Homo sapiens: one gene and its partners. The protein of the gene in region 1 interacts with the protein of each later gene in a biochemical or structural test. Each region holds a gene or a part of one and is shown in the gene's direction. Other genes may lie near its edges.

Region 1 (3,500 bases):
CCAGCAGGATGCCTGGTGCCAGGAACTCCCCCTTGGGCTAAGGTTGAGGTCTGGGAATCACCAGGCTTGTCAGTAGGTTTACAGGGCATTTTGTTAGACAGTGTTGGTTTTGACCCAGTTTTCCTTTAGGGTTGTTTCTGGGTCTTTCCACAGACAGGCCTGGGCTGCTCAGGGGGTTGGTGGGCATCTGCCAGACTAAAATGAAAACAAGTGATTTCATACTTAGAAGCCATGGACCATGGGTGCTGTTGTTTGAATACAGTATGTTTGTGTGCATGTGTGGTGTGAGCTTATATACGTGAAAAATACACTTTTATTTAAAACTAAAGTAATACATACTCATTAGTGAAGAATTGGAAAACACAGAAAAGTAAAAATTAGAATATAAAAAAATGTCTTCATAGTCCCACTGTTCTGACTGCTAACCTGGAACTAGACAATACAAGTTTGTATCCTGGTCTACCACTTACTAGCCCTATGGCCTTAAACAAGTTGTTCAAACTCTGTGTGCCTCAATTCCCCTATCTAAAAATGGGTATTATAATAGTACCTAGTGCGTAGGATTGTTGTGAGAATTAAGCAAGTTAATAAATGCAAAAGTCTTCTTGAATAGAGCCTGACACAGAGTAATCACTTAATAAATGTTAGCCATCAGCATCATCATTATTGCATTTCTTACTATCATTATCAGTGGTCAACTGAATTCTATAATATGTTTACCCAGTCCCCTATTGGTAGATGTTTGAGTTGCTTCCTGATTTTCTTTATTGTAAGTGATGCAACAATGAACACCTTTCTGCATGGAGCTTTCTCTGAATTTCACATTACTTCATCAGAACAGTCACAAAAGTCAGAGTTATTGGGTAAAAGTATAAACAGTGTTGGGGTTCTTCAAATATCTAATTCCAAGTTCTGGGAGCTGCCTTACTGGGTGCCATTCTGTGCTTCCCCAGGGGCCCATTTCTGGTAGCCATGGGCCGTTCTTGGCACCCTGAAGAGTTCACCTGTGCCTACTGCAAGACTTCCCTGGCAGATGTGTGCTTTGTGGAAGAGCAGAACAACGTTTACTGTGAGCGATGTTATGAGCAATTCTTTGCCCCGCTGTGTGCCAAGTGCAACACCAAAATTATGGGGGTAAGTGGGAGGCCTCCATTTCCTCTGACCCATGTCTCTTCCCCAGCCCTTCCCCAAGATCGTGGGATCCCATTAGGAAGCCAAGAAGTTGCTGGTAACAGAGAAAGCAACTCCATTTTTATCCTAAAAGGGAATTGGTTTGCCACCAATAAACTTGGGGATAAATGAACTTGATGCAAGAGATGATTGTGTGCCTGTTCCACACAGCTTGAAGTGGTGGTGGAACTTCTGCAAAGCAAGTGGTTGCTTCACAGCCTGACCTTACCACTCACCAGAATGTGGCCTTAACCCTCAATGCCCCTTTGGTAAATGACAGTAATAAGCAGTACCTCCTCCCAGGTTTAATGGGAGGATTAAGCCTCACAGTTTATGTAAGAAAGCACAGAACCTGGCACCCAGCTGGAGAGTGACAACCCCTTCTCTGACACCCCTGGGTCTTTCTTCAGAGTGACCAAGGCCTGCATCCTGAGATCTCCTGCCCTGTTCCCTGGTAGGATGCTCGGGCAGTGGCTGGAGCCTGGTGGGGTAGTCAAGCCCGCTCCCTCTCTCCTTTCTGTCCTGAGCTTAGGCTCTTTCCCCCAGGAAGTAATGCATGCCTTGAGACAGACATGGCACACCACCTGCTTCGTCTGTGCGGCCTGCAAGAAGCCTTTTGGGAACAGCCTCTTCCACATGGAAGACGGGGAGCCCTACTGCGAGAAAGGTAGGAACACTTCGATGGCATGTGGGGAGGCCCCACAGCCTGGGAGAAAGGGGCAGGCACAGGGAACTAACTCCTGCCTAATCCATTCACATCCGACCACCCAGAGGCCTTTATTTCTGGAAGAAACCTTTGTTTTTGCTTTTAATGGCAGAATCATGCTAATATCACACAAAGGAAGTTAACTATCTCCCCTGCCCATATGGTTGCAGCTTTGGGGAGAGTGAGGTGCAGAGTCTATAGCTTATTTTATGCATCAAATATGTGGATCTGGTTAGGTGAGGTGGCTCACACCTTAATCCCAGCACTTTGGGAGGCCGAGACAGAAGAATTGCTTGAGCCCAGGAGTTTGACACCAGCAACATAGCAAGACCCAGTCTCTACAAAAAATATAAACATTAGCCAGGTGTGGTGGCGCGTGCCTGTAGTCTCAGCTACGCAGGAGGCTGAAGTGGGAGGGTCGCTTGAGTCCAGGAGTTCGAGGCTGCAGTAACCTGTGATAGCACCACTGTATTCAGCCTAGGCAACAGAGTAAGATCCTGTATCTCAAAAAAAAAAAAAAATGTAGATCACAAGTTGGCATCTTATGACCACTGGGAAACCTTTCAGGTTATTTTGATTTGGAGACCACAAGGTCTAGTCTGAAAAGGCCTTGGCTGTGGACTTTGTCCTTCATTCTATTCCTGGTTCCACTTTGGGCTGCTTTGTAAACCTGAGCAAGTTACTAACCTTCTCTGAGCCTTACTTTCCTCGTCTGTAAACACCTGCCTTACAGAGCTGTGGTGAGGATTAAACCAGAGAAGGCGTGTAGAGCATCAAATATGCGAGACCCCTTCCTCTGCCCCTGTGATATTTATCAGACTTTGATGTTCCTGCAGATTCCTGTAATCTCACGGAGTGAATTCAGAGTTTCTCTGTACCCCCAAAATGCTATATGTTATCTTAAAATGCTAAGTAAATTATTGTAAATTCAAGAGACAAAGCACTTCATTAGATAGGTGGAAGTCAGTCACTCATTTATTCAGAGGCTTCCCCCTTCAGAAAGGATTTGAAGCAGGTTCCAGAAAAGGTAACACAGACATGAAGGCTAAGACAGTAGAACCAGAAAATCAGAGGCGGGAAAAGCAGGCATGCTGATTATGAAGAATAACAGAGCTGCAGGGACTAACTGGGTAGCAAATTTGAGGGCAAAAAGAGAAACACAGTAAGTTAGTTTACTTTAAAATCAGAAAGGAGAAAACATTCAGTTCCTCAAGGGAAAAAGCAAAACAAAATAAAACTTCTTTCCCCTGACTGTAAATTAGAAAATAAACGTTTTGGCTGGGCGCGGTGGCTCACGCCTGTAATCCCAGCACTTTGAGAGGCCAAGGCAGGCGAATCACCTGAGGTCAGGAGTTCAAGACCAGCCTGGCCAAAATGGTGAAACCCCATCTCTACAAAAATACGAAAATTAGCCGAGCATGATGGCGGGCGTCTGTAATCCCAGCTACTCGGGAGGCTGAGGTTGAAGAATCGCTTGAACCCGGGAGGCAGAGGTTGCAGTGAGCTGAGATACTGCCGTTGCACTCCAGCCTGGGCAACACAGTAAGACTCCATCTGAAAAAAAAAAGAAAGAAAGAAAAGAAACGTCTTGGGTTCTTGTACTAGTGAATGCCCTTCCCAGCTC
Region 2 (3,500 bases), on another chromosome or scaffold:
TGGTAAAGTAGGAACAAGCAGTGCCGCTTTGTTTCTAGATGTGGGAACAACAAGGAGCCTGACCAAAGATGTCCACTCCCTCTTCCTCCACACCACTTCTGATGACCTCCAAACAGGTCAGGCAGTGTACATGGAGAGCTGGGGACAGCAAGTGGATAGATAGGAGAACACAGAGCCTGAGTGTCTCAGAAGCCAAGCTGCCTAACTACTGCTGTTTGTTTCCAAAACCTCTTCATCCTTTTAACCAGTCATTTAAGTTTACTTTAAATGCTGTAGCCCTTTGCTACATGTGTGGTGGGAGGCATCTTGCAGGTAATATCAGTTGAGTATCACGTAGCAGGAATGGAATTTGTGAGTCCTCTGGCTGATGCTGGCAAAGCTAGTTCTTCAAAAGAACTGTTTTACAGTCTAAGTGACATCTTTTTGTATATAACTTCGTACTAGTAAAGTTGGGGGTAGGGGGTAAAAAGGCCTTCCTTAACAGTGCATTTCTTCCATTCAAAATCAAGGGCAAAACTAAAAAGCTGGCAGATGGCGACCATCCTGACCCTTTGCGGCACAACATGTTATTAGCAATTAAATGCTTTTATCTGATCTCTGGTCCACACAACTGTCAAGGTCTCAAGATTTTATGATGTTTCCATTGTGATGGTAATTTGTTGAGATGGCTTTCTGGGTAATTTCGTATTGCTCTTGTTATTCAGTTTCAAGGATTATAAAATAATAATAGCAGCCCTGTGTGCTGACGAATGCATTCTCCATAACTATGGCTGCTCCTTGATGAGAAGCTTTACAGTACTATATATAAATGCCAGCTGAGTATTTGTTATTATTGTTGGACATCTTTTTTCAAAGAAGCCCAGAGCCTGGTGCTGATATCATCCCATTAATCTCCATAGCCCTGGGCAAGGTAAGACCATGACAGCAATTTTTTAAATCCCATCTCGGTCTTCTCTAGGTTGCTCTGTAAGAATTGTTTAGATGTAAGCTGGTGAGTGCTCAGGAAGCCAAAGTTTAAAGCAAAAGTTTTAAGCAAAAGAGTAACATGAGCTGATACTAAAAGCCATCTCTTGGCCCGGTGCAATGGCTCATGCTTGTAATCCCAGCACTTTGGGAGGCTGAGGCAGGCGGATCACCTGAGGTCAGGAGTTCAAGACCAGCCCGGCCAACATAGTGAAACCCTATCTCTACTGAAAATACTAAAAATTAGGCTGGCATAGTGGCAGGCATCTGTAATCCCAGCTACTCAGGAGGCTGAGACAGGAGAATCGCTTGAACCCGGGAGGCAGAGGTTGCAGTGAGCTGAGATTGTGCCACTGCACTCCAGCCTGGGCAATAAGAGTGAAACTCTGTCCAAAAAAAAAAAAAAAAAAAAGCCACCTCTTGTACTACTGAAGGAGGAATTTATGCAGACTTCTTAGCTACCAGTGATTTCACTCTGTTTTAATACAAAAATTTACATGTATTTCTTTTATGATTTAGGTCAGTGGGTTACCAACCCCAGATCTAAGCTGGCAACTAGATGGAAAGCCCGTACGCCCTGACAGTGCTCACAAGATGCTGGTGCGTGAGAACGGGGTGCACTCTCTGATCATAGAGCCAGTCACGTCACGTGATGCCGGCATCTACACATGTATAGCTACCAACCGAGCAGGACAGAACTCATTCAGCCTGGAGCTTGTGGTTGCTGGTAGGCTCATCTGTGAATCCTTGCTCTCTGACAGAATGAACATCAGACTTACAAATGTAAACTAATTCTACATTACTAACCAATACGGAAAATAAAGTATTGAAAAAATAGATTGTATCATCAAAATAGCCAATGAGGACATGGTTATAAGGCCTAGCAAAACAGAAACAGAAATCTTTCATTTCTCCCACTAACCTGGCAAAGAGAGAAAAAGATTTTATTAGCTCTTTTGGGTCATTCGACCTCCTGTGTGTATAGTGGCCCCTAGTGTTACATAGAGAAATAGTAACAGCAGCATGGACTCCAAGAACCAAAGAATTTGCTTATATATAAAGTTTTATATTTATATATATATATATATACACACACACACACACACACACACACACACACACACACACACCTGGTTTTTAAAACAACACTGTCATCTACCCTCATAGTCATTGTCAAACTACACTCAGATTTGCTTTTTCACTGATTATTGTGTAGGTAAATTCTGTAAAAGTGCTGTTACATGAAGTCTTATGCTTTGAGAAGCCTAAAAGGAAAACACATTTATGGAAAGGTTTTTATACCATCCTTAAGAGTTAGGTGTTGAGTACCTGATCTCTTTTAAGAAAGAACATAACAAAACATTTATTTCTTCTACCTCTTTATGCAAAGTGCTTCATGTACATTATGTATCAGTTGGCCCTCACATGAGCCTTATGAGATAATCAGAGCAAATCTTCTCTGAATTTTCCAGGGTCCCACTTAGTAAGCTGATGATTAGATTTAACACAAGACTCCTAGTGCTCTTCTAAACACACTACGTCACTGAGCTCTTTCAAGAAATAGAGTAGCAATGAGAATAAAACCCAAGAAGTCTTGACAAAACTCTTGGATTATGATTCTGATAATGGTACCAAGATGTTTTCACATAAAAATGTGGTAAATATGTGGACTGTGGTGCTACAGGTTAGCCATGCTTTCAAGTTTTGTACAAAGTACTCTATATTCTTACATGCTACAATTGATTTCATTCCTCTAACCTCAAACTAAAACTTCACTTTTCTGCTGTTAAATATGCCTTTTGATCACATAGATACCTCAGTGCGCATCAGCTGGCACTCCTGTCAGAAGACGGTGATGCACAGTAATTGGAAGCAAAGTCTTTGGGGTCAGATCTGCTCCAGTCCCGGCTCTTGTCGATTTTACTAGTGTGACATTTGGCAAATAGCTATCTCTGCGACTTAGTTTCTCCATATATAAAATGGGAATATAATGCCTCACAGTGCTTTCCTAAGGATTAAATCATAAAAATGTGTATGAAGCTCTGCATAACTAGTACCCTGCACAGCAATGCTGCAAAGTGGTAGATGTTATTCTTACTGATGAGTTGCTATGACATTAAGACTTGTTTTATACATTTTATGTTCTTTGCAAAACTGGAGCCCCAGAAAGAATACAAAGTGAGCTTCTGTTCCCACTTCTCCCAGAATAGCCTAGGATGGGCAACCATGTAAAATTCAATAAAAATCCAACCTTCTAACTAACTCGTGGTGTTGGAGAGTATTAAGCATTTGAAAAGTTCAGGTAGAATTTTCATCCTTTTTGAGCTCTTTCCTAGCTGCTTTGCTGTGATATATCTGTCACTCCAGATGAGGGAGTAGTGGTGGAAAAGGAATGCATTCTCAGATTCATTGTTGGTAGTTCAAAAGAAAATAAGTAAACCTTATTCATTCTCTGAAGTACTTTCCACCACTACTACAACTGATCCAAGAAAACAATTTCCCATTGGATGGTATTATTCAGAGTGTTATTAACAATC
Region 3 (4,092 bases), on another chromosome or scaffold:
AATGACCCTGTGGCATCTCCCCGGCCCACACCCCCAACCCCCGCCCGTTCCGGCAAGACCAGACTCCTTTTGCCAGAGTCATAGCCGCAGCTCAGGTCCTGCTAGGTCTCAGAAAGTCTTGCGAAGAATCCAGGTGGAGACTCTGGAGCGAACTCTGGGGAGAGAATGGGGCGTGTGTGCACATGCTCAGTGGTTTGCAGCTGCCAGAGTGACCCTAGGATGGGACAGCCACCGGGACTGTGGCAGCACCCACATGGAGTGATGGTCAGGGAGAGATCAAGAGATATGACTCCGGAGACCCTAAGTCCTCTAGAGACCCCAAGGGGAGACCCAAAGGGGAGCGGCCGAGGAACCCTGAGACAGAGACATGGAGGGCTAAGAGATAATGAGCAAAAAGAGACCTAGAGAGGAGAGACAAAGAGACCAAGAGAGACAAGAGATAAACGGAGACAGACCAAGAGTCAAAATAAAGGCGGAGACCGAGACGTAGAGGCTGGCAGAGGGACCCATACAGAGGCCCCCAGAACGACGAATCTCAGAAATAAATGACCCATAGAGATACTCAGAGATACATCCCAAAAGAGACAGAGACCCAGAGGGGACAGCCGGACACAGACACACAAGAGAGTGAGAGACAAAGGTGCAAACAGGGCGACTCCAGGCCGGGCGCCGTGGCTCACGCTTGTAACCCCAGCAATTCGGGAGGCCAAGGAGGGCAGATCACTTGAGGTCGGGAGTACCAGACCTGCCTGGCCAACATGGTGAAACCCCTTCTCAACTAAAAAAGAAAAAAGAAAAAAAATTAGCTGGGCTTGGTGGCGCCTGTAATTCCAGCTACTAGGGAGGCTGAGGCACGAGAATCGCTTGATCCCGGGAGGTGGAGGTTGTTGCAGTGAGCCGAGATCGCGCCACTGCACTCCAGCCCGGGCGACAGAGGGAAACTGTGTCTCAAAAAAAAAAAAAAAAAAAAAGACAGAAAGAAAGAAGAAAGAGAAAAGAAAAGAGGCGACTGCAACTGAAGCCTGATTCTGACGAAACACACGCACACGGAAACTTGGAGAGACGCAGGACAGGATCCCGGCGGCAGAAGGACGGAGAGAAAGGGGACCCCGGGACGGGAAAGGCGCAGAGCAGGCGCGGGCGGCGGCGGCGGCGGGGCAGGGCAGGGCGGGCGTCCCGGCAGAGGGCGCGCGGTCGCCCTGTCGCCCTCCGCCCCGCCGGGGTCACAGTGCCCCCTCCCTCGCGCCCTAGCCGCCCTGCCGGGCTATTTTTACGCGCGGACACCGGACACCGGACACCGGGCTGGGGCGGCGGCGGCGGCGGCCGAGGCGGCCGAGGCGGGGCCGCACCGGGGCCGGGCGTCGGGGCCACACGTCGGTTCGCGGGTCGCCGGGGCTGCGCGCGCCATGGAGCCGCGGTGCCCGCCGCCGTGCGGCTGCTGCGAGCGGCTGGTGCTCAACGTGGCCGGGCTGCGCTTCGAGACGCGGGCGCGCACGCTGGGCCGCTTCCCGGACACTCTGCTAGGGGACCCAGCGCGCCGCGGCCGCTTCTACGACGACGCGCGCCGCGAGTATTTCTTCGACCGGCACCGGCCCAGCTTCGACGCCGTGCTCTACTACTACCAGTCCGGTGGGCGGCTGCGGCGGCCGGCGCACGTGCCGCTCGACGTCTTCCTGGAAGAGGTGGCCTTCTACGGGCTGGGCGCGGCGGCCCTGGCACGCCTGCGCGAGGACGAGGGCTGCCCGGTGCCGCCCGAGCGCCCCCTGCCCCGCCGCGCCTTCGCCCGCCAGCTGTGGCTGCTTTTCGAGTTTCCCGAGAGCTCTCAGGCCGCGCGCGTGCTCGCCGTAGTCTCCGTGCTGGTCATCCTCGTCTCCATCGTCGTCTTCTGCCTCGAGACGCTGCCTGACTTCCGCGACGACCGCGACGGCACGGGGCTTGCTGCTGCAGCCGCAGCCGGCCCGGTGAGAGGCGGGGCGTGGGTGGAGACGGGCGGGGTTTGGGAGGAGATGGGCGGGGTCCAGAGGGGACCTGGCCAATCATAAGGCGGGGCCAGGGGCTGCGAGGGGTGGGCCAGCCGAAGACAGGGTGGGCGGGAGGCGGGGCCTGAGGATCCGGGTCGGAGGACCTGCCCCATCAGAAGGTGGGGTTGAGGTCAGTGAGAAACCCGGCGTGAAGAGGGCAGGGCCCTTGATGCAAGGGGTAGGAGGACAGGAACCTTAAAAATCACAGCTGAGGGGGGCCAAGGAGAGCCTGAAAACTCCGGAGTCTGTGCGGCTGGGTGGTGAAAGCCAGGCCCTGAATAACTCCAGCTGAGGGTGCTGGAGCCCGAGGGGCGACAGTAGGAGGAATCTATGGAAAGAAAGCCAGGTTGAGGGGCCAGAGGAGGGGGCCTAGGGCTCGGCTTGCAGAGAAGGTCTTTTTTTTTTTATTTCCTGTGAGACAGAGTCTTGCTCTGTCGCCCAGGCTGGAGTGCAATGGCGCTATCTCGGCTCACTGCAAGGTCTGCCTCCCGGGTTCAAGCGATTCTCCTGCCTTAGCCTCCCAAGTAGCTGGGATTACAGGTGCAGGCCACCACGCCCGGCTAATTTTTGTATTTTTAGTAGAGATGGGGTTTCACCGTGTTGGCCAGGATGGTCTCTATTTCCTGACCTCGTGATCCGCCCGCCTCGGCTTCCCAAAGTGCTGGGATTACAGACGTGAGCCACCGCGCCCAGCCGCATTATACTCTGGGCTGGGACTGTGGAGGGCAAGGAAAAGCTAGGCACAAGGTGGTGGGGCCAGGGCAGGGATGCTCCCCATCTAGAAAATCAACACTGGAGGCGGGACTTTGAGAGAGAAGAGGTTGCACCCTACTCAAACATGAGTTCCCACGCATGAAGGGGCAGGGACCACGTCTCCAGCCACCCACCAGGTCAGGCAACCAGAAAGTCAGCGGCCCAGGGATGATCCCTGGGATCCTGGGAGGAAGTCTGGGATAACCAGGTCACGGAGGGCCTTGGCGCAGCGGCTACTGACCAATGTGTAAAGAGGAGCTGGGTATTTAAATGATGATTAAGGCTGTCCCCGTGTCCTAGCCCCAGCCTGACCCTCCCTGAACACTTTCCTCCCTGCAGTTCCCCGCTCCGCTGAATGGCTCCAGCCAAATGCCTGGAAATCCACCCCGCCTGCCCTTCAATGACCCGTTCTTCGTGGTGGAGACGCTGTGTATTTGTTGGTTCTCCTTTGAGCTGCTGGTACGCCTCCTGGTCTGTCCAAGCAAGGCTATCTTCTTCAAGAACGTGATGAACCTCATCGATTTTGTGGCTATCCTTCCCTACTTTGTGGCACTGGGCACCGAGCTGGCCCGGCAGCGAGGGGTGGGCCAGCAGGCCATGTCACTGGCCATCCTGAGAGTCATCCGATTGGTGCGTGTCTTCCGCATCTTCAAGCTGTCCCGGCACTCAAAGGGCCTGCAAATCTTGGGCCAGACGCTTCGGGCCTCCATGCGTGAGCTGGGCCTCCTCATCTTTTTCCTCTTCATCGGTGTGGTCCTCTTTTCCAGCGCCGTCTACTTTGCCGAAGTTGACCGGGTGGACTCCCATTTCACTAGCATCCCTGAGTCCTTCTGGTGGGCGGTAGTCACCATGACTACAGTTGGCTATGGAGACATGGCACCCGTCACTGTGGGTGGCAAGATAGTGGGCTCTCTGTGTGCCATTGCGGGCGTGCTGACTATTTCCCTGCCAGTGCCCGTCATTGTCTCCAATTTCAGCTACTTTTATCACCGGGAGACAGAGGGCGAAGAGGCTGGGATGTTCAGCCATGTGGACATGCAGCCTTGTGGCCCACTGGAGGGCAAGGCCAATGGGGGGCTGGTGGACGGGGAGGTACCTGAGCTACCACCTCCACTCTGGGCACCCCCAGGGAAACACCTGGTCACCGAAGTGTGAGGAACAGTTGAGGTCTGCAGGACCTCACACCTCCCTAGAGGGAGGGAGGGAGGGCAGGGTGGAGGGCAAGGCTGGGGGGAGGGGATTGGGTTTAGGAAGAGCTAGGTTAAGTCGTAACGAGTGGGGAAACACTGAGTCTTGTTGGGTCTTGGGTTGTGTGGTT
Region 4 (3,500 bases), on another chromosome or scaffold:
CCCACCCAGTGCCTTCTCCGCCCTGCCCCTCCAGGCCCCCCCACCCAGTGCCTTTCCTGCCTTGTGCCTCTCGGGGCCTCCACCCTGGGCTGGGGAACCTCAAGCCCAAATGCAGCTGAGCAGCATAGTTGGTGCCTCAGTCCCTCGACTGCTCCCTGCAGATGCCACATGAGGCTGCCCCACCAGGGTCTGGCGTAGATGCTGTCACTGAGGGCCCTCTAGATGTTTGCTTGCCACGCGGTGTGGGAACATGCAGCTCAGGGAAGGGGAGGAATGAGCTGTTCCAGCAACACCTGGAGGCAGGCTGGGATGCCGCAAACATCAGCTTGGCCACAGAGCAGCCGGGAGATCCCTGGGGCCTCCAGCACAGGGTGTCCCTGCCCGCTCCCCAGGCCGACGCATGACGCTGAGTGTCCCTGCACGCCTGGAGTTGTCTCCGAGAGGGTGGGGAGGGGTCCAGGTCTCGGGCAGGCACAGGTGAGTGGTGGGGGGAGGCCTTGGCCACAGCAAGAAGTGTGCCAGGCAGGATGGAGCCGGCAGGACGGGCACAGATGCAGGGGCTGAGAGTGGGCCCAGGCACTTGGGGCCACGTGCCTGGCTCCGGTGCTTGCAGTGGAAAGCTGTGGCGTTGGCAGCCCTAACTTGGGCCAACCGAGAGCTCCAGGGAGTCCCAAGGCTTCTCGGTCTCTGTCAGCCAGCAGAGCCCCCGCCTGCCTCCCGGCCTGCTCTGCCACATGGATGTGGAGGAGGCCCTTTCGCTCCAGACACGGGCCTGGGTTGGGTGGGCTCCCATGCTGCGTCCCCATCCTTGCTTCCTCTGGACTGTCTTCTCCGGGGGTGGGGTGGGGGCACTACATTTGTGAGGAATGATTGTGCTCAGAAAAGCCCCTGTCCCGTGTGGGTGTTGTTGCTGACTGATCTCTGCCTGGGTGTTGAGGCTCAGTGAAGGCGGGGAGCGACAAGCACCAAGCGGGGGCAGCCTTGACCGCACCTGAGTCTCACAGAGTGGGGCACTAGGACCCTCGCACCGCAGGTAGGAACACGCTCAGAGACCTGAAAGGGCCCACTCCATGCTTGCAACAGAAAGCCAGGGTCGGGGCTGGAGCCACAGCTCAGAGGTGGGCCTCCTAAGCCCATGTTCTTTCCACTAGGAAAAAAAATTCAGTCAAAGCGGGAGAAAGGGAACATCTGCAAATAAATGCAGAGCAGTGAAATTTACTCGGTGCCGCATTTATGCCTTTTCTTCATTCTTTTTGCCCTTTATTATGATAACGAGCATAGTTTGCAAAAACCTCTATTAACCCCTGAAAATAAAGTTGAATGTTCTTCTGTGCATTTCATGACAAGCAAAGTAAATGTCATTTACAGCCTTAATTCTCAAGAAAATAGGGTGAAATGTTAACTTAGGTACAGAAACGAAGGCACGGGTGTTGACATTACATTCCCTGAGCTGATGAATATCTTCCCAGGCTCCTGGCTGGTACCATCTAAGCCCCGGAACATCTCAGGCGAGCCTGCCTCCCCCACCCCACGCGGAGGCTGTCCCCATCCACCAGGGTATCTGGGAGCTGCGAGAGCCCAGGTCTGACCCCGCTGCTTGGCTGATAGTGAGGCCCCTGAAAGACCTTTAGGAACGGCCCCTGGCTCTGGCCTTTGATTATTTAAAAGGCCAGGCGCAGGCCTATTCCTGCAGGCTAGGGCCAGACACGTGCCTGCTGAGGACAGGGGACTCTGTTGCAGGCAGATTGGGCTTGGGAGATGGTGCCAGCCAGTGGAGGATGCAAGGCTTCTGAACTGGTCAAAGGTCAATTGCCTATGGGACTGGTTTTTACTTTGGGGTCATCAGAGACCAAACTGCGTTGACTTTTGGTCGCCTGCCTGCCACACTCTCGTCCCCTCCACCTCCATCCGAGTCTGCCTGCTGGTAGCAGGAAGCACGTGTCGTTTCCCGAGAGAGCTGTGGGGGAACACCTCCTCCGCCTTTGCCATGCCGCCCTCAGCCTGGCGTGCCCCTCGCTTGCAGGGATAGCAAGGTAGCAGGTTTGTCTCTTATCTCCGAAGCCACCATCTGGGCCCCTGTATCCATCAGGATGTGCTGCTCCTCTGAGCCCTCAGGGCCCCAGCTGACAGGAGCCTGTCTCAATATGGCCTGCGGGACCCCGTGGCAGGGGAGGTGGTGAAGGAGCCACACACTCCTCTACCAAGCTTCACTCGCAGGGACCCGCTCACTGTGGGTTCACAGCACATTGGCCAAGTGCAGCCACGTCTAACCTCACGGGAGGGTGGGAGGACCTCAGCTTCCTCATGTGCCTGGAAGGCGGAGGTCAGGAATGTATCCCTAAATGTTTTGCTAATTTTAGAAATTAGGCTACTAAATAGTGTGGACGTGTGTGATTTGTGTGTGTTTGTGTATGTTTGTGCATGCACGTGCATGTTTCTGTTTGTGTGCGTGCATGTGGATGTGTTCTTGCATGTATGAGTTTGAATGCACAAATGAGTGTTCGTGCATGTGCGCGCATGTGTCTGTGTGTGTATATTGCATGGTATGTGTGTCTGAGTGTGTATGTTGCATGGTATGTGTGTCTGAGTGTGTATGTTGCATGGTATGTGTGTCTGAGTGTGTATGTTGCATGGTATGTGTGTCTGAGTGTGTATGTTGCATGGTATGTGTGTCTGAGTGTGTATGTTGCATGGTATGTGCAGGAAAAACTAACTCGAAGGACATTAGCAGATGTCCCTGGGATGAAGGGCAGGACCAGCCTGGAAGCCCCTCCTGCTCCTCCTTGTTTCTGCCCCTTCCTTCCCCAAGCACCCCCATAGCCCAAAAGGACCCAGGTAATTTGGAGGAGCCCCATTGCTGGGTGGTGGGCATGAACCAAAGCCCTCTGATCAGTTCTGGGTTTCCGCTTTCCTGAGTCCCAGGCCTGGTCTGCTGGACATATAGAAGGGGGCTTTTCAGCAGAGCCGCACCAGCCCTAGTCTCTACAGGCCTGTGGCAGGCCATGCTTCTCGGGGCGGGGTGGGGCAGGATGGGCGGGAGAGCACAGCGTGGGCTCTGTGGCAAGCAGGGCGGGTTCTGTTTCAGGGCCAGGGCTGATCTTCATCATCTACCCGGAAGCCATCGCCACGCTCCCTCTGTCCTCAGCCTGGGCCGTGGTCTTCTTCATCATGCTGCTCACCCTGGGTATCGACAGCGCCGTGAGTAACCCGCACCGCCCGGCCCTGTCCTCGGCAGTTGGGTTCCTTCCACCCGAGGGGGCCCTGCCCTCCCAGGGCTAGGCAAGATCCCTGGGCTCACGTACGGCCCCCAGACCTCCTGTCCTTGACTTGGGCGAGCCCCGTGATTATTTGGGAGACCTTTCTCGGGGCTGGAGTGAGTGGTGACTGGAGTTTACCTTTCCCTTTATCCCCCTACTCTGGGGTACCTGTGTGCCCTGCCCTGAGCCACCTACAGATCCTGGAAATGTGCACACACATGCACACACACACATACACGCACA
Region 5 (3,500 bases), on another chromosome or scaffold:
GAGCTGAGTGAAACTTTAGACTTCAAGAAGGACACAGAAGACCAGGAAAGTCAACATGAGAGTGAACAGGACTTCTCCCAAGGACCTTGTCCCACTGTTCGCCAGAAGCTCTGGAATATCCTGGAGAAACCTGGATCTTCCACAGCTGCCCGTATCTTTGGCGTCATCTCCATTATCTTCGTGGTGGTGTCCATCATTAACATGGCCCTGATGTCAGCTGAGTTAAGCTGGCTGGACCTGCAGCTGCTGGAAATCCTGGAGTATGTGTGCATTAGCTGGTTCACCGGGGAGTTTGTCCTCCGCTTCCTGTGTGTGCGGGACAGGTGTCGCTTCCTAAGAAAGGTGCCAAACATCATAGACCTCCTTGCCATCTTGCCCTTCTACATCACTCTTCTGGTAGAGAGCCTAAGTGGGAGCCAGACCACGCAGGAGCTGGAGAACGTGGGGCGCATTGTCCAGGTGTTGAGGCTGCTCAGGGCTCTGCGCATGCTAAAGCTGGGCAGACATTCCACAGGTATTCACATTTCACTGATGCCTTTTAATTTGCCATTGCATGTAAGCATTCGTTTTTTGACCACAGTACAAGGAAAGTAACGCTGAACTGATATTCAAAATTACCAACTCCCATACTTTACCTGATCATGACCTCTAAGGAGATATTGGGAGGCAAAACATTGAAGTTGCTATCACAGGTATAGAGAAATGAGCTCTCACATACCTCCTCTCCATAAGAGAAATGTTGAGAGACAATTTGACCATTTGCTAACCTCAGTTTATTTGAAACCATTACCCAGAAGATATACAAAAATTAAACGCACTCTGCCTATTCAAGGTTCTGGACAAAACAGGCATAAATGACACATAAAAAGATACACATAAATTATATATGATATATAGGGACATAAGCCAATTTCTCTTCAGTATCCGAGAAGTGCTTGCCACATATGCTCCTTGGCAGAAGAGAAAGTCAGCCCTTCAGAGCCTTCTCTGGCCATGCAGAAAGAGAAATGACTAGGTGCAGGTGGCCTTTCCAAAATTTTCAAAGAAGCAATGAAAATATTTTGCTTTGGGAGAAAGCAAAATAAACTAATTAAATGCTTTATCTAGTATCTGAAGGTTTTCTTGTCCCTAACCTGGGATGTATGAGAGAGGGGAATACAGAAATCCCTTAGTTTTTTGTGTATCACAGAGCCTTTGAAAATCTAATTAATATTTTCCTAGAAAAGTCTCCATATAACACACACACAAACACATAAGATACGTGAAAATTATAATCAATATCAGTGAAAATCACAGGAACTGATTAAAAATGATTCTTGCATCCCCAACAGTAGTAGTTATCAGTGGCTGGCCTTGCAGCTGTCAGATATTGTGGAGTATATGAGTTTCCTTATGACATACCTTAATGAAAATAAGGATCCCCAGGCAAGCTTGTTGAAATACAGCTTCTGGCTCCAACCCCCAGAAAGCTTGAGATCGGGTCTAGGAGCACACATTTTATAAATAATAAGTTCACCAATGACTTTGATGTAGGTGGTTCTTGGACCAAACCTAGAGAAACACTGGAGTATGATGCCATATTAATTTTATATATGTTGATACAAATACATATTAGCACAAACAAATTGGCTAGATATCACTATCCTTATTTTATTTCCCTAGATATGTGCCCTGACTGACCACCTAAAAAAGGTTGATGGTAGTTGTCCTTCCTATAAATGTCAGGTGAAATTACTTCTGATATGTTTTTCTTCAACATTTCTCTGACAATTAGAACTTATTATAATATAATTTTGGTAGTGTATTTTCCTAGCTAGTCTCACATACCAGGAATTTGATAATGGGGTTTCCAATAACTTTTACAAGTACCACTCTTTGTTTTCTGACACAGATAATGGGATGCTTTCTTCAAGTATTTATAAACTCTTCACAAGACTCAATTTAAAAACACCCAGTAAAAACTACATTTTTTTCCAAAAGAAAGGAAAAGGAAAATAACAGTGATTTCCACAATGTCTCCTCTTCAAAGATTTTCACCATTCTAAAACAAGTATAAAGTTTTAGTAAACCCTTAATTATTAAAAAATATGTGACTTGCATATTTGACAATTTTGCCTCAACACTACATTTATTAAAATGTACACATAGATGACCTATTTCCCCATGTATTAATTATAAATTCAAATTGAGAGATGTTATAGGATAATGGGTTTTTGGCCAGAAACTAGGTTTAAATCCTGGCTCTGTAGCTTTCTACTAGATAAGCTATCTCTTTATGCCTCAGCCTCCTCGTCTGTATAATGGCATAACAATTACCATGTCCCTCTTATATCCTTTCTTTTGAAGATTCTCTGAGTTAATAGAGATAACATGCTAGAAATTCCACCCACTTTGTTTTCCTTTACAAAATTGTTTTGAACATTTTGCCTTTAAACTAAAACAGTGTTCCCAGACAAATGCTATGCATCTCCTCATATGCTGTGAATTTATTTAAGGAACATAATTCCATGTAGACACATCAAGGCCAGTTTTTTATAAAAGTAAAGGTATTATAAAGGTATTCTGAAAGATACTCTTTTGAAGTTAAACTTCAAAATACTCAATGATCTTTAAAAATAGCTGGTTAATAATTCAAGAATATCTCAAAATTTGAAGAGCAAAATTCAAAATCCTAAGAGTATGATTAGTATGCTAATGCCTTTGAAATAGTCTCTAGTGAGTGAATAAAAACAAAAAATGATTCTAAGAGGTATTGTTTTGGACTTCTGGGGCAATATCATTTTGACATCATGTTGATATAATTTCAAAATGTGGACAAACTTTAATAACCACCTCTCTAGTATTAGGGAATAAATCTTATGGTTCATTCAAAGCCTGGTTCCATAATGGGCTTTTCTTTCTTTCTTTTTTTTTTTTTTTCTTTTTTTGAGAGGGAGTCTCATTCTATTGCCCAGGCTGGATTGCAATGGCGTGATCTTGGCTCACTGCAACCTTCGCCTCCCAGGTTCAAGTTATTCTCCTGCCTCAGCCTCCCGAGTAACTAGGATTACAGGCACGCACCACCACGCTGGGCTGATTTTGCTATTTTTAGTAGGGATAGGGTTTCACCATGTTGGCCAGGTTGGTCTCAAACTTCTGACCTCATGATCTGCCTGCCTCAGCCTCCCAAAGTGCTGAGATTATAGGCGTGAGCCACCGTGCCCGGCCCATAATGGGCTCTTACTCCCCTTAGGCCTAGTGTCTTCAGAGACGGAATTGGACTATCGTGGTTCTGTCTCCCTGGGGTTTAATAAATCCTCAGATCTAGGAATGGAAAAGCAGCCAATGCTTCATAAAGAGTAAATTCTCTAGTGGTTCCATTTCCCATACCTTTTTGCAATGGAGGAATATTCTGTATTCAGGTCTATGTTATTATAGGAAAGCAGAAATTTTATGTACTCAAGGGAGATAATTTCTTACAGCTTTGGTATTAAGGAGTAGGGTTTCAGTGGGTGTCTTGG
Region 6 (4,294 bases), on another chromosome or scaffold:
TTTGCACCTTGCACCTACCTCTCCGTCAGAACCCCATTTCATCTGAGCTGGTTGCTTTCTATGTGCCTTTTTGGCTTTGGGATGGACACTGTAACAAGTGATTTGCATTTCTGTGCCTCACTGTACTATGCCCCTCTCTAAGGCTGGCACAGGTCTCCTTCATTTTATACTCTACGACCTAAGAGTGCTTATAGCACAATGGGTGGTTGGTATCTATTAAACAAATGAATGTGTAAATGAATGATAGAAAGTAATTGGTGAAAAGTACGCTGAGATAGAGTCTGATCACAGGCAAAAAAAAAAAAAAAATGGAAGAATTAATAGTCCAATGGCACTTTTCTTATAAAACTGAATTACATAGTCAAACCATCATTTAAAATAATCTTACAAGGAAAACAACATTAATGTGCGTCTGTTGAGACGGATTATGCTGTTTTGGAATTAGGAAGAGAATGTGCAGTTCGCTGTTTGCTTTCAGACTGTTTGTTTGTTTTGTTTATTAAACTGGCGTCTCCAGCTCTGCAGCCCAGCCTGTGGAACCTAAATGGCCCAGGTCCCAGGAGTTCCCATCGGAGCCGTGGGCGTCCCCAGGGTTTAGAAAGGCTCCCCAGGGGCCCAAGCTGCCGGCGAGTGCAGCTCCCGCCGGCGCCACCTCTGCGGTCTGGAGCGGCGAGGACGATCCCAGAGAGGCGCCCCCACTGCCTCGGTCGTCGGGTTCTTAAGTTTTTCTCTCCAAAAATTTAATGGATAGTTTTCTTTTGCTTCTGTTTCTGACTTGATTAAAGAGGCGGAAAAAAAGGAGTTTGACTCCAAGAAGAATGATAGTAGCAGAAGGCGCATCTGGCTTTACTTTCCAAATTCCATCAAAGTTTGTGTTTTGTTTCATTTGACAGCGATCCCGTGAACGTCTCCTCTGGGGAAATGGCGCGACCAAAGCCCGCCAAGCCCAGCCTGCGAACTGGAGGATTTATTAATGTAATATGTTAAACAAAACCTCGACAGACACAAACTCAAAGGAAACCGTGCGCTCCTTAAGTCAAAGGCATCTGTTCTGGAAGCAGAACCCGGTTTGCTGTTGGTAACCAGCGTTAAGAGCAGGATTTTTAAACATGATAATGGATAAAATAAAAGAAAAGCGAAGTCCCGCGGTCCTCTGACTCCTATTCATTATCTCCAGCAGCATATGGGACCATTCTCCTACGTATCCTCGCCTTTTTCTTCTGAAAAAGCAAAAGCAACCAAGCCTGTCCCGCTTCAGAGCAATCCTACTCTTTGTGCCTGAGTAGTGCCACCACCACTACTTCCTCCTCCTCCCGCCTCCTCCTACCCCGCCCTCCTGCCGCTGGCTTTCGCTCTGGCGAGGAGGCGGCCGGCTCCCTTTGCGCCGGGAAGCCGGAGCCGCGATTGGGCGACGGTCCCTGAGCCTCCAGTTCTGCGTCGGTTTCAAGGCTCCTCCCTCCTGGTGAAAGACAGACTACGGGGCGCCTGGAAACCGGTCCGAGGGCGCGCGAGGCAGAGGAGAGGGAGCGAGTTGAGGGATTGACACAAATGGTCAGGCGGCGGCGGCGGAGAAGGAGGCGGAGGCGCAGGGGGGAGCCGAGCCCGCTGGGCTGCGGAGAGTTGCGCTCTCTACGGGGCCGCGGCCACTAGCGCGGCGCCGCCAGCCGGGAGCCAGCGAGCCGAGGGCCAGGAAGGCGGGACACGACCCCGGCGCGCCCTAGCCACCCGGGTTCTCCCCGCCGCCCGCGCTTCATGAATCGCAAGTTTCCGCGGCGGCGGCGGCTGCGGTACGCAGAACAGGAGCCGGGGGAGCGGGCCGAAAGCGGCTTGGGCTCGACGGAGGGCACCCGCGCAGAGGTCTCCCTGGCCGCAGGGGGAGCCGCCGCCGGCCGTGCCCCTGGCAGCCCCAGCGGAGCGGCGCCAAGAGAGGAGCCGAGAAAGTATGGCTGAGGAGGAGGCGCCTAAGAAGTCCCGGGCCGCCGGCGGTGGCGCGAGCTGGGAACTTTGTGCCGGGGCGCTCTCGGCCCGGCTGGCGGAGGAGGGCAGCGGGGACGCCGGTGGCCGCCGCCGCCCGCCAGTTGACCCCCGGCGATTGGCGCGCCAGCTGCTGCTGCTGCTTTGGCTGCTGGAGGCTCCGCTGCTGCTGGGGGTCCGGGCCCAGGCGGCGGGCCAGGGGCCAGGCCAGGGGCCCGGGCCGGGGCAGCAACCGCCGCCGCCGCCTCAGCAGCAACAGAGCGGGCAGCAGTACAACGGCGAGCGGGGCATCTCCGTCCCGGACCACGGCTATTGCCAGCCCATCTCCATCCCGCTGTGCACGGACATCGCGTACAACCAGACCATCATGCCCAACCTGCTGGGCCACACGAACCAGGAGGACGCGGGCCTGGAGGTGCACCAGTTCTACCCTCTAGTGAAAGTGCAGTGTTCCGCTGAGCTCAAGTTCTTCCTGTGCTCCATGTACGCGCCCGTGTGCACCGTGCTAGAGCAGGCGCTGCCGCCCTGCCGCTCCCTGTGCGAGCGCGCGCGCCAGGGCTGCGAGGCGCTCATGAACAAGTTCGGCTTCCAGTGGCCAGACACGCTCAAGTGTGAGAAGTTCCCGGTGCACGGCGCCGGCGAGCTGTGCGTGGGCCAGAACACGTCCGACAAGGGCACCCCGACGCCCTCGCTGCTTCCAGAGTTCTGGACCAGCAACCCTCAGCACGGCGGCGGAGGGCACCGTGGCGGCTTCCCGGGGGGCGCCGGCGCGTCGGAGCGAGGCAAGTTCTCCTGCCCGCGCGCCCTCAAGGTGCCCTCCTACCTCAACTACCACTTCCTGGGGGAGAAGGACTGCGGCGCACCTTGTGAGCCGACCAAGGTGTATGGGCTCATGTACTTCGGGCCCGAGGAGCTGCGCTTCTCGCGCACCTGGATTGGCATTTGGTCAGTGCTGTGCTGCGCCTCCACGCTCTTCACGGTGCTTACGTACCTGGTGGACATGCGGCGCTTCAGCTACCCGGAGCGGCCCATCATCTTCTTGTCCGGCTGTTACACGGCCGTGGCCGTGGCCTACATCGCCGGCTTCCTCCTGGAAGACCGAGTGGTGTGTAATGACAAGTTCGCCGAGGACGGGGCACGCACTGTGGCGCAGGGCACCAAGAAGGAGGGCTGCACCATCCTCTTCATGATGCTCTACTTCTTCAGCATGGCCAGCTCCATCTGGTGGGTGATCCTGTCGCTCACCTGGTTCCTGGCGGCTGGCATGAAGTGGGGCCACGAGGCCATCGAAGCCAACTCACAGTATTTTCACCTGGCCGCCTGGGCTGTGCCGGCCATCAAGACCATCACCATCCTGGCGCTGGGCCAGGTGGACGGCGATGTGCTGAGCGGAGTGTGCTTCGTGGGGCTTAACAACGTGGACGCGCTGCGTGGCTTCGTGCTGGCGCCCCTCTTCGTGTACCTGTTTATCGGCACGTCCTTTCTGCTGGCCGGCTTTGTGTCGCTCTTCCGCATCCGCACCATCATGAAGCACGATGGCACCAAGACCGAGAAGCTGGAGAAGCTCATGGTGCGCATTGGCGTCTTCAGCGTGCTGTACACTGTGCCAGCCACCATCGTCATCGCCTGCTACTTCTACGAGCAGGCCTTCCGGGACCAGTGGGAACGCAGCTGGGTGGCCCAGAGCTGCAAGAGCTACGCTATCCCCTGCCCTCACCTCCAGGCGGGCGGAGGCGCCCCGCCGCACCCGCCCATGAGCCCGGACTTCACGGTCTTCATGATTAAGTACCTTATGACGCTGATCGTGGGCATCACGTCGGGCTTCTGGATCTGGTCCGGCAAGACCCTCAACTCCTGGAGGAAGTTCTACACGAGGCTCACCAACAGCAAACAAGGGGAGACTACAGTCTGAGACCCGGGGCTCAGCCCATGCCCAGGCCTCGGCCGGGGCGCAGCGATCCCCCAAAGCCAGCGCCGTGGAGTTCGTGCCAATCCTGACATCTCGAGGTTTCCTCACTAGACAACTCTCTTTCGCAGGCTCCTTTGAACAACTCAGCTCCTGCAAAAGCTTCCGTCCCTGAGGCAAAAGGACACGAGGGCCCGACTGCCAGAGGGAGGATGGACAGACCTCTTGCCCTCACACTCTGGTACCAGGACTGTTCGCTTTTATGATTGTAAATAGCCTGTGTAAGATTTTTGTAAGTATATTTGTATTTAAATGACGACCGATCACGCGTTTTTCTTTTTCAAAAGTTTTTAATTATTTAGGGCGGTTTAACCATTTGAGGCTTTTCCTTCTTGCCCTTTTCGGAGTATTGCA
Region 7 (3,500 bases), on another chromosome or scaffold:
GTGAGCTAAGATTGTGCCACTGCACTCCAGGCTAGGCGACAGAACAAGACTCCATCTCAAAAAAAAAAAAAGGAAAGGAAAGAAAGGCCAGGCATGGTGCCTCACACCAGTAATCACAGCTCTTCTGGAGGTCATGGCAGGAGGATTGCTTGAGTCCAGGAGTTCAAGACCAACCTGGGCAATATGATGAGACCCTGTCTCTACAAAAATAAGAAATTTTAAAAAAAAGGAGGAAAGAGGCTAGGTACGGTGGCTCACGCCTGTAATCTCAGCACTTTGGGAGGCCGAGGCGGGGGGATCATGAGGTCAAGAGATCAAGACCATCCTGGCCAACATGGTGAAACCCCGTCTCTACTAAAAATACAAAAATTAGCTGGGCCTGGTGGCACACACCTGTAGTCCCAGCTACTTGCGAGACTGAGACAGGAGAATCACTTGAACCCGGGAGGCGGAGTTTGCAGTGAGCTGAGATCACACCACTGCACTGAAGCCTGGTGACAGAGCAACACTCCGTCTTAAAAAAAAAAAAAAAAAAAAAACAGGAAAGAAATGCATAGGGTTTCAGAGTAAGTTTTGATGTTTTTCCTCTATATAAATCGGATAAACTTCACACACCCCTATTCTTATCCTCTAATCTCTAAACTATATTCAACTCCCAATAGTTATAGAGATTATTTTCATTCACATGTTTGTAGTATTTATCAGTTTTGGCTTAATTTATTATTACTTAACTAATGAGTTATAACATTCCTTTTGGGAACGTTCAAATTAGAGCTGGACTCTATTTTAGGAATTCCCCTTGAGTCATTCTTGGACTTGGAATTCCTAATTGCCCATCCAGAGTAGATGTTTATTTGGATTCAAAATTTTCCTTCCTGAAATTATCCATTCTGTGGCTTCGGTTACCATATATATTTTGAATACTGCCACATTTTTATCTGTAGCCAGACCTCTTTTTTTATCCTGGCTGCCTGTTCAACATCTCCACAGAGATACTCAGAGGAGGTAATTTGAATTGTGTTGTCCAAAGTGAGCTCTTCATCTTGGCCCCACACCTAGACTTTCTTCAGTGTACTCTATTTTATTAAGTGGCTCTATCACACAATTTACTGAGGCTGGACTCTTTTTTTTTTTTTTTTTTTTTGAGATGGAGTTTCGCTCTTGTTGCTCAGGCGGGAGTGCAATGGCATGATCTTGGTTCACTGCAACCTCTGCCTCCCGGTTTCAGGCGATTCTCCTGCCTCAGCCTCCCGAGTAGCTGAGATTACAGGCGCCTGCCACCACGCCCAGCTAATTTTTTATATTTTTAGTAGAGATAGGGTTTCACCATGTTGGCCAGGTTGGTCTCGAACTCCTGACCTCAGGTGATCCACCCGCCTCGGCCTCCCAAAGTGCTGGGATTATAGGCATGAGCCAACACACCCTAATTTTAGAATATTTTAGATTGTTTTTATTCCGTCAAAAAGAAACCTGATACCCGTTAGCAGTTACTCCCTCCTTATTCCCCCCATAATGGTTGTACAATATTCCATTATGGAGGTTATACCATAAATTATATATGTTTCTTTTTTTTTTTTTTTTTTTTTTTTTTGAGACGGAGTCTCGATCTGTCTCCCAGGCTGGAGTGCAGTGGCACGATCTTGGCTCACTGCAAGCTCCGCCTCCCAGGTTCACACCATTCTCCTGCCTCAGCCTCCCAAGTAGCTGGGACTACAGGCGCCCGCCACCATGCCCGGCTAATTTTTTGTATTTTTAGCAGAGACAGGATTTCACAGTGTTAGCCAGGATGGTCTTGATCTCCTGACCTTGTGATCCACCTGCCTCGGCCTCCCAAAGTGCTAGGATTACAGGTGTTAGCCACCGCACCCAACCTAATTATATGTGTTTCTTATAATAAATGCCCTGTATTTGTTTAGGGTAAATTACTAAATGTGGAATTATTGATCAAAGGATATAAGCACTTTAAAGTTCTTGATAACTGTTGCCAAGATGCCTTCCAGAAAAGTTGTACCAGATGACACCATTGGTGTATGATGGTATGGGTGTTGGTGTTTTTTTGTTGTTTTTTTTTTTTTTTTTTTTTTTTTTTTGAGACGGAGTTTCCCTCTTGTTGCCCAGGCTGGAGTGCAATGGCGCGATCTTGGCTCACTGCAGCCTCCACCTCCCAAGTTCAAGTGATTCTCCTGCATCAGCCTCCCAAGTAGCTGAGATTACAGGCGTGTGCCACCACGCCCGCTAATTTTGTATTTTTAGTAGAGACAGGATTTCGCCAATATTGGTCAGGCTGGTCTCGAACTCCTGACCTCAGGTGATCCGCCTGCCTCAGCCTCCCAAAGTGCTGGGATTACAGGCATGAGCCACCGCACCCAGCCGATGGTATGGGTTGGGTTTTTTTAAAGAAATTTTGTATCATAAACGTAGTCATATTGGAAAATCATACATTTATTTTTGTCTTAGACATGTTCGTTTTTCTAGACTGAGCATTGTTCAGAACAGTTGGTTTGACCTAATCTTAGGCTGTTTTGGACAAATGTTCCAATATTGTCCTGTTTGCATGAAGACAGTTCCACTTAGGATATGTTGTGAATGAATATATTATCCCTATCCCAGGTTCCTCATACTTCTCCAGCTGGTTCCTGAAGGTTCTTACATTCAAATAGAATGGCTTTTTGCCAGCGAAAATTGGCACTTCAACCCACAATGGTGCTTTTTGTTTCCTCATTGGTTGATACAGCCAAGATCTCAAACTACTCACTCTCCATGAGATTTTATAATTTGATTCGCCACAAATTATATTTTAGGTTTTTCAAATATTCATAGCCAAGAGCTCTTTTGAAAACAAGTTGTTTTCATGTTTGTAGCACATAGATTACTATGTGCTACTTAGCTGCTGTAATGCTTTTGCTTAGAAATTGTCACGAGCTAGTTATTAAACATCTATTATCACTCATGTGGAATTAACTTCCACTTAAAACGTTCCAGTTAAACAACACTTCATTGTAAACCCTTTAATTGATTCCTGGTCTCTGCACATAAAGCAGTCGCGTTCAGGGGTATGAGTCACTAGCACGATTCTTAGTGGATTGCTCAGCTCATGAGCTGGGATGCCTAGATTGTTAATACCTACTTTGGAATTACAGTGAGTCAATATTGAAATTTTTAAATTTAGTCCAACCGCAAATTTTCTGAAATGATCGTTTGGGAAGTGCCTTTTTAAAATTTTGACATCTTGTTATATTGTTTAATTTTACTGCTATTACTTTACTTTTCTCCTATCCCTAGACTTTTGAGTTCCACATAATTTGTCAGTTTGGTGAATTTTACTCTGAGATAGTTTTCATCAAATGTTAAATGGAAGAGATTTTAGAAATCATCTAACTTGATATTCTTCATTTATTTCAGAAATTAGGATATGGAAAGAACTTATTCCTGAAGTGCATGGATTATATTCTGGGATTAGAATCTCTTGCCTTCTAGTCCATTGCTTGCTTAGTTTCACA

What was found.
Region 2: the proteins of LDB3 (region 1) and PALLD interact in a test that uses a peptide from one of them, tested with the Homo sapiens proteins (one large-scale study listed by IntAct).
Region 3: the proteins of LDB3 (region 1) and KCNA7 interact in a test that uses a peptide from one of them, tested with the Homo sapiens proteins (one large-scale study listed by IntAct).
Region 4: the proteins of LDB3 (region 1) and SLC6A3 interact in a test that uses a peptide from one of them, tested with the Homo sapiens proteins (one large-scale study listed by IntAct).
Region 5: the proteins of LDB3 (region 1) and KCNV1 interact in a test that uses a peptide from one of them, tested with the Homo sapiens proteins (one large-scale study listed by IntAct).
Region 6: the proteins of LDB3 (region 1) and FZD1 interact in a test that uses a peptide from one of them, tested with the Homo sapiens proteins (one large-scale study listed by IntAct).
Region 7: the proteins of LDB3 (region 1) and GJC1 interact in a test that uses a peptide from one of them, tested with the Homo sapiens proteins (one large-scale study listed by IntAct).

The regions. Positions count from the first base shown.
Region 1 is NC_000010.11:86,717,011-86,720,510, forward strand, and holds part of LDB3 (LIM domain-binding protein 3), read left to right. Parts: intron 1-953; coding exon 954-1,134; intron 1,135-1,716; coding exon 1,717-1,837; intron 1,838-3,500. UniProt on the Homo sapiens protein: May function as an adapter in striated muscle to couple protein kinase C-mediated signaling via its LIM domains to the cytoskeleton.
Region 2 is NC_000004.12:168,920,052-168,923,551, forward strand, and holds part of PALLD (palladin), read left to right. Parts: intron 1-1,482; coding exon 1,483-1,690; intron 1,691-3,500. UniProt on the Homo sapiens protein: Cytoskeletal protein required for organization of normal actin cytoskeleton. Roles in establishing cell morphology, motility, cell adhesion and cell-extracellular matrix interactions in a variety of cell types.
Region 3 is NC_000019.10:49,069,900-49,073,991, reverse strand, and holds the start of KCNA7 (potassium voltage-gated channel subfamily A member 7), read left to right. Parts: upstream 1-1,292; 5' UTR 1,293-1,406; coding exon 1,407-1,961; intron 1,962-3,113; coding exon 3,114-3,929; 3' UTR 3,930-4,092. UniProt on the Homo sapiens protein: Mediates the voltage-dependent potassium ion permeability of excitable membranes.
Region 4 is NC_000005.10:1,410,941-1,414,440, reverse strand, and holds part of SLC6A3 (sodium-dependent dopamine transporter), read left to right. Parts: intron 1-3,085; coding exon 3,086-3,198; intron 3,199-3,500. UniProt on the Homo sapiens protein: Mediates sodium- and chloride-dependent transport of dopamine. Also mediates sodium- and chloride-dependent transport of norepinephrine (also known as noradrenaline). Regulator of light-dependent retinal hyaloid vessel regression, downstream of OPN5 signaling.
Region 5 is NC_000008.11:109,969,272-109,972,771, reverse strand, and holds part of KCNV1 (potassium voltage-gated channel subfamily V member 1), read left to right. Parts: coding exon 1-514; intron 515-3,500. UniProt on the Homo sapiens protein: Potassium channel subunit that does not form functional channels by itself. Modulates KCNB1 and KCNB2 channel activity by shifting the threshold for inactivation to more negative values and by slowing the rate of inactivation.
Region 6 is NC_000007.14:91,262,939-91,267,232, forward strand, and holds the start of FZD1 (frizzled-1), read left to right. Parts: upstream 1-1,494; 5' UTR 1,495-1,942; coding exon 1,943-3,886; 3' UTR 3,887-4,294. UniProt on the Homo sapiens protein: Receptor for Wnt proteins. Activated by WNT3A, WNT3, WNT1 and to a lesser extent WNT2, but apparently not by WNT4, WNT5A, WNT5B, WNT6, WNT7A or WNT7B. Contradictory results showing activation by WNT7B have been described for mouse.
Region 7 is NC_000017.11:44,820,288-44,823,787, reverse strand, and holds part of GJC1 (gap junction gamma-1 protein), read left to right. Parts: intron 1-3,500. UniProt on the Homo sapiens protein: One gap junction consists of a cluster of closely packed pairs of transmembrane channels, the connexons, through which materials of low MW diffuse from one cell to a neighboring cell.